Homo sapiens: one gene and its partner. The protein of the gene in region 2 purifies or fractionates together with the protein of the main gene of each other region. This does not show direct contact. Each region holds a gene or a part of one and is shown on either strand. Other genes may lie near its edges. The genes, in order: SPECC1L and IRAK1BP1.

Evidence for each region.
Region 1: the proteins of IRAK1BP1 (region 2) and SPECC1L purify together in Homo sapiens (affinity purification with mass spectrometry; one large-scale study listed by BioGRID and IntAct). This does not show direct contact.

The regions. Positions count from the first base shown.
Region 1 is NC_000022.11:24,315,509-24,319,333, forward strand, and holds part of SPECC1L (cytospin-A), read left to right. Parts: intron 1-3,825. UniProt on the Homo sapiens protein: Involved in cytokinesis and spindle organization. May play a role in actin cytoskeleton organization and microtubule stabilization and hence required for proper cell adhesion and migration.
Region 2 is NC_000006.12:78,898,373-78,901,223, reverse strand, and holds part of IRAK1BP1 (interleukin-1 receptor-associated kinase 1-binding protein 1), read right to left. Parts: 3' UTR 1-2,851. UniProt on the Homo sapiens protein: Component of the IRAK1-dependent TNFRSF1A signaling pathway that leads to NF-kappa-B activation and is required for cell survival. Acts by enhancing RELA transcriptional activity.

The DNA of each region.
Region 1 (3,825 bases), on a different chromosome or scaffold from region 2:
ACATTTAACATTGTAGCTTATGTGGTAGGAAGGAAATTAAATACTCTTGCCATTTGCATGTCTTCCTGTTTCCTGCCTTTAGAATTGTACTGGGAGAGATTCCATGTGTTTGTATACTTAGTTTCTTACTGACTGATGCTACCTGACCTCAGGATTCAGTTATCACCTCTCTGGATTAGCTGCCCCAGTATGGCTTTGTACGTTTATTTTATTTTGCTGGGGATGTCATAACAAAATACCACAGACTGGATGGCTTAAGCCACAGAAATTTATTTTCTCAAATCTGGAAGCCAGAAGTCTGAAATGAGGGTGTTAGCAGATTTACTTTCTCCTGAGATCTCTTTTTTGTCTTGCAGATGGCTGCCTTCTCTGTGTCTTCCCTCTGTGTGTGTGTCCTCATCTCCTCCTCTTACAAGAACGCCAGTCATGTTGGATTAGGGCCCACCCTAATGACTTCATCTTACGTTAATTACCTCTTTAACTTCATTATCCTGTCTCCAGGTGCAGTCACATTTGAGGTTTTGGGGTTAGGGCTTCAACATATTAATTTTGTGTGTTTTGTGCGGGCACAGTTCAGCCTATAACAACATCCTTATTCTTCAGTTCATCTGCTCTACCTTTACCTCCTCCAGTGACTTTCCTAAGACTGTTTGATTTCCATGTATCAATTCACTTGTCTTTACCTCAGATTATTCTGTCTACTCATTACAGTAATCCAGAGAAGAATTTTTCTTCTTTTATCTTTCAAACATGAACAGATTTTCTTTTTATTTATTTATTTATTTATTTATTGATCATTCTTGGGTGTTTCTCGCAGAGGGGGATTTGGCAGGGTCACAGGACAATAGTGGAGGGAAGGTCAGCAGATAAACAAGTGAACAAAGGTCTCTGGTTTTCCTAGGCAGAGGACCCTGCGGCCTTCCGCAGTGTTTGTGTCCCTGGGTACTTGAGATTAGGGAGTGGTGATGACTCTGAACGAGCATGCTGCCTTCAAGCGTCTGTTTAACAAAGCACATCTTGCACCGCCCTTAATCCATTTAACCCTGAGTGGACACAGCACATGTTTCAGAGAGCACAGGGTTGGGGGTAAGGTCACAGATCAACAGGATCCCAAGGCAGAAGAATTTTTCTTAGTACAGAACAAAATTAAAAGTCTCCCATGTCTACCTCTTTCTACACAGACACGGCAACCATCCGATTTCTCAATCTTTTCCCCACCTTTCCCCCCTTTCTATTCCACAAAACCACCATTGTCATCATGGCCCATTCTCAATGAGCTGTTGGGTACACCTCCCAGACGGGGTGGTGGCCGGGCAGAGGGGCTCCTCACTTCCCAGTAGGGGCGGCCGGGCAGAGGCGCCCCTCACCTCCTGGATGGGGCGGCTGGCCGGGCGGGGGGCTGACCCCCCCAACCTCCCTCCCAGACGGGGCGGCTGGCCGGGCCGAGGAGCTCCTCACTTCCCAGTAGGGGCGGCCGGGCAGAGGCGCCCCTCACCTCCTGGACGGGGCGGCTGGCCGGGCGGGGGGCTGACCCCCCCACCTCCCTCCCGGAGGGGGTGGCTGGCCGGGCGGTGGGGCTGACCCCCCCACCTCCCTCCTGGACGGGGCGGCTGGCTGGGCGGGGGGCTGACCCCCCTACCTCCCTCCCGGACGGGGCGGCTGGCTGGGCAGAGGGGCTCCTCACTTCCCAGTAGGGGCGGCCGGGCAGAGGCGCCCCTCACCTCCCGGATGGGGCGGCTGGCCGGGCGGGGGGCTGACCCCCCCCACCTCCCTCCCGGACGGGGCGGCTGGCCAGGCGGGGGGCTGACCCCCCCCACCTCCCTCCCGGACGGGGCGGCTGGCCGGGCAGAGGGGCTCCTCACTTCCCAGTAGGGGCGGCCGGGCAGAGGCGCCCCTCACCTCCCAGATGGGGCGCTGGCCGGGCGGGGGGCTGACCCCCCAACCTCCCGGACGGGGCGGCTGGCTGGGCAGGGGGCTGACCCCCCCACCTCCCTCCCGGACGGGGCGGCTGGCCAGGCAGAGGGGCTCCTCACTTCCCAGTAGGGGCGGCCGGGCAGAGGCGCCCCTCGCCTCCCGGACGGGGCGGCTGGCCGGGCGGGGGGCTGATCCCCCCACCTCCCTCCCGGACGGGGCGGCTGGCCAGGCGGGGGGCTGACCCCCCCATCTCCCTCCTGGACGGGGTGGCTGCCCGGCAGAGATGCTCCTCACTTCCCAGACGGGGTGGCTGCCGGGCGGAGGGGCTCCTCACTTCTCAGACGGGGCGGCTGCTGGGCGGAGGGGCTCCTCACTTCTCAGACAGGGCGGTTGCCAGGCAGAGGGTCTCCTCACTTCTCAGATGGTGCGGCCGGGCAGAGACGCTCCTCACATCCCGGACGGGGCGACAGGGCAGAGGCGCTCCCCACATCTCAGATGATGGGCGGCCGGGCAGAGACGCTCCTCACTTCCTAGATGGGATGGCGGCCGGGAAGAGGCGCTCCTCACTTCCTAGATGGGATGGCGGCTGGGCAGAGACGCTCCTCACTTTCCAGACTGGGCAGCCAGGCAGAGGGGCTCCTCACATCCCAGACGATGGGCGGCCAGGCAGAGACGCTCCTCACTTCCCAGACGGGGTGGGGCCGGGCAGAGGCTGCAATCTCGGCACTTTGGGAGGCCAAGGCAGGCTGCTGGGAGGTGGATGTTGTAGCAAGTCGAGATCACGCCACTGCACTCCAGCCTGGGCACCATTGAGCAATGAGTGAAGGAGACTCCGTCTGCAATCCCGGCACCTCGGGAGGCCGAGGCTGGCAGATCACTCGCGGTTAGGAGCTGGAGACCAGCCCGGCCAACACAGCGAAACCCCGTCTCCACCCAAAAAATACGAAAACCAGTCAGGCGTGGCGGCGCGCGCCTGCAATCGCAGGCACTCGGCAGGCTGAGGCAGGAGAATCAGGCAGGGAGGTTGCAGTGAGCCGAGATGGCAGCAGTACAGTCCAGCTTCGGCTCGGCATCAGAGGGAGACCGTGGAAAGAGGGGAGAGGGGAGAGGGAGAGCCAGATTTTCTTTTTTATAAGGATTTTTGATTTAGATAAGGATGTGGTACCACTTGCAGAACTAGGGAAAGGAATTAATGTTGGGGAAAAAAGTTACCCCAGCCAGGTGCGATGGTGCACGCCTGTAATCCCAGCACTTTAGGAGGCCAAGGTGGGCAGATCACTTGAGCCTAGGAGTTCAAGACCAGCTTGGGCAACATGCCCAATGTGGTGAAACCCCGTCTCTACAAAAAATACAAAAATTAGCTGGGTATGGTGGCGTGTGCTTGTAGTCCTAGCTACTCGGGTGGCTGAGGTGGGAGGATCACCTGAGCCTGGGAGGTAGAGTTGCCGTGAGCTGTGATGGCACAACTGCACTCTAGCCTGGGTGACAGAGCCTCAAAAAAAAAAAAAAAGTTATGCCATCTTTTTCCATTTTTGGCCTCCGTATACAGTTGTTTATCCCAGTCTGGTTACTCTTGCCTTTGATATCTGTCACAGATTTCTTGCCTCTTCTCTGTTCTTACTGCCGCCCCTGAATGTGGGACCTCTTTTACCTCATTGATCTACCTGCCCACATTCCTCCTCTGCTGCTCTGCTTTCTTCCTTATGTATTCCACTTAGAATCTGTATTAGTCCATTCTCATGCTGCTGTAAAGAACTGCCCCAGACTGAGTAATTCATAAAGAAAAGAGGTTTAATTTACTCACAGGTCCACAGAGATGGGGAGGCCTCTGGAAACTTAGAATTATGGTGGAAGGGGTAGCAGGCACATTCTTCTCCACATAGTGGCAGGAAGGAGGAGAATGAGAGCCAA
Region 2 (2,851 bases):
GGAAATTCTAAAAAGTGCCTACTAACTTAAAAAAAAAATTGTCTTTAGGTATTTCATGCTAAGTTGGAAGCTTCTTTATCAAATATGATGCAACCAAATACAGCATGAACCCATAGCTAAAAAAAAAAAAACTACCCATGTGATTAAATTTTTGTTGAGAACGAACAATTTTTTTCTTGATGCACAACCTCATTCTACTTTTCTGTACAACTGGATAGTAACTTCTTTTTGGTAATAAAAATTCAACATATGTTACATTGGTTTTCTGACAACTTTATTTTCAATATGGCTATTTAAAAATTCTTCCTAATGGAGGATTTGGAAAAGCCAACTTTTAATTGAGCCAACAATAATCAAACAATGCAGCTGATATATCAGCTACTATTTTCAGAGTGACCGTTATGTGCTAGCAATTGTTCTCATGATCATATATTTATCAACTTTAATCCTTATAATAACACTGCAAGGTTAAGTACTATTAGTCTCTTTCATTTGTAAGGACAAAGGAAGATTAAAGAGATTAAAGTAACTTGCCTTTTATCCAGCTAGTAAATTTTCCCAGCAAATATTTGAGAGCATACTTGATATTGGCCCTGAGACTACCTCTGGGGCTGGGAACACAACTGTGAACAAGACAGACAAGATCTCCACTTTCAAGGAGCTTACATTCCAGTAGTAAGGTCAGGATTTGGATATAATGGTGTTGAACTCAAACTCTTCTTAGCTTCTACTCTTCCCCTACAGCAACACTCCAATAAGATGAATAAAATTGTTTCAGGGCCACTTTAAAAAGTGGGTGAAGCTGGACACTATATACTGGAATATGTTGTAAGAAAGTACTGTTGGTATATAAACATCCAGATTTATCAATGGAAAAACTCTATGACCTAGATGTATAGAGAATGGAAAGCCTATGCTGCATAACAGACATGGCTTATGATTGCCTGTAGATAAAATGTAATTCTTACTGTAGATAGCAGTAATACATACTTGCTGTTAACTTTCAAATGGCCTTAAGAATCATTATTATCTCAGTGTTTGACCTTGGTCTGTTCAGCAAGGTAGTCTCAAGCCATTTGTGGCCTTCAAGTACTTGAAATATGGCTAGTGTGACTGAGGAACTAAATTTTAAATTTTATTTAATTTTAACTAATTTAAAAACTGATACTTGATCCAGTTACAAGATTTTTTAGGCATGCTAGAACAACCTGGGTATGTGAATCTCTTTTTTTCAACTGTACATTTTAGGAAATTTAAATACAGATAAAATATTTCTGATGAAAATTTAGCATGTGAATTGAGATGTGCTATTATGTAAAAATATACACTGAATTTTGAAGATAAAACAAATATCTCAATTTAAAAAATACTGATTACATGCTGAAATAATATTTTTGATATATTTGGTTAAATAAAATGTTATTAAAATTAGTTTCAACTGTTTCTTTTTTAAAGTTTTATTTTTAAAAATGTGCGTACAGGGCCAGATGCAGTGGCTCACGCCTGTAATCCCAGCTACTTGGGAGGCTGAGGCAGGAGAATCGCTTAAATTCAGGAGGCAGAGGTTGCAGTGAGCTGAGATCGTACCACTGCACTCCAGCTTGGGCGACAGAGAAAGACTCCATCTCGAAAAAGAAAAATAAAAAAACATGTGCACTAGGAAATTTTAAATTACACATATCGTTTGCTTTGTATTTGTATCACTCTAAGGAGCCCTGTTGGAGTCCGATCCAAACATTAACTCTTTTATTTTTGGCATCAAAACATTTTCCTATTATACCTCATTATTCTTTTGTAAAAAGCTATGAATTATTTATCACTATTTCTATTCATGTTGTGAAGTTGTTAAGGTTGGGGTTGTTATCTGCATCTTACCAAAATGGTCTCTGGTCCTAGTAAAGAAACTGTTAGATGTGAGATAGCCCTCAGTAGACTTCACCTTCCTAAACATATTGCTGGGTGTGGCAAGCATGAAAGACCTTGGCTGTTCTTTACCTGGGCCATTTCTCAGTATTGAGTTTTGAGTGAGCATCTATAAGGGATGAGGCAAAGAGCAGGTTTGCTTCTGTTCATGGATAAAAAGCAGTGAACCCTCCAAGCTCAGTATTCTTTACCTACAACAAAAGCCTGCTGTATATGTAGCCATATTGCATATGGCCATATCATTTTGCCCCCATGGGACCTGGGACAAGGGGAAGCAATGAGAATGTGCTGATGCTCATGCTCCTTGTTGTGCCATGAGTAATAGTCCTTTGTTTCTGTCTGGGAATCTCAAGTCTTCTGTTAGCATCCATGAAGAAGTAACAGGGTAACTACTTAGCTTCTAACTAAAGTAAAATTAAATATCAGACCTGACAGGATGCACTTAAAATTATGTATTTATACTCATTTTTAGTTGTGGAAAATTATTAGGTTTGATGGGATATAGGAATTCTTTTCCATAAAAATTTTGTCTTACAATTTAAAAAATTTAGCTAACTTATTGAAGCCTAGTTTTTACATAAAATTTGGTTTTATATAAAAATGTGGCTGAGAAAATTTTAGCTTAAATATCTTTAAAAATTATGAAATGCAAGGGTCAATATCTGTCCTTATAATAGAAATATTACACATGTGCTTGTATGAACTGTCAGTATATAAGTATGCACATAATACATTTATTATCCAAGAGTGTTTTTCAGAGTAGTCTTTTAAAAATAGAAAGTGAACATAAGTATTCTGTGGGACTATATTCAAAGATTTATAGATTTTGGAAAGAAATAGCTTATCTCCTATACCATATATATATATATATATATATATATATATATATTCAGGACAAACGTAAACATTATAAAAAGTATAAAAATAG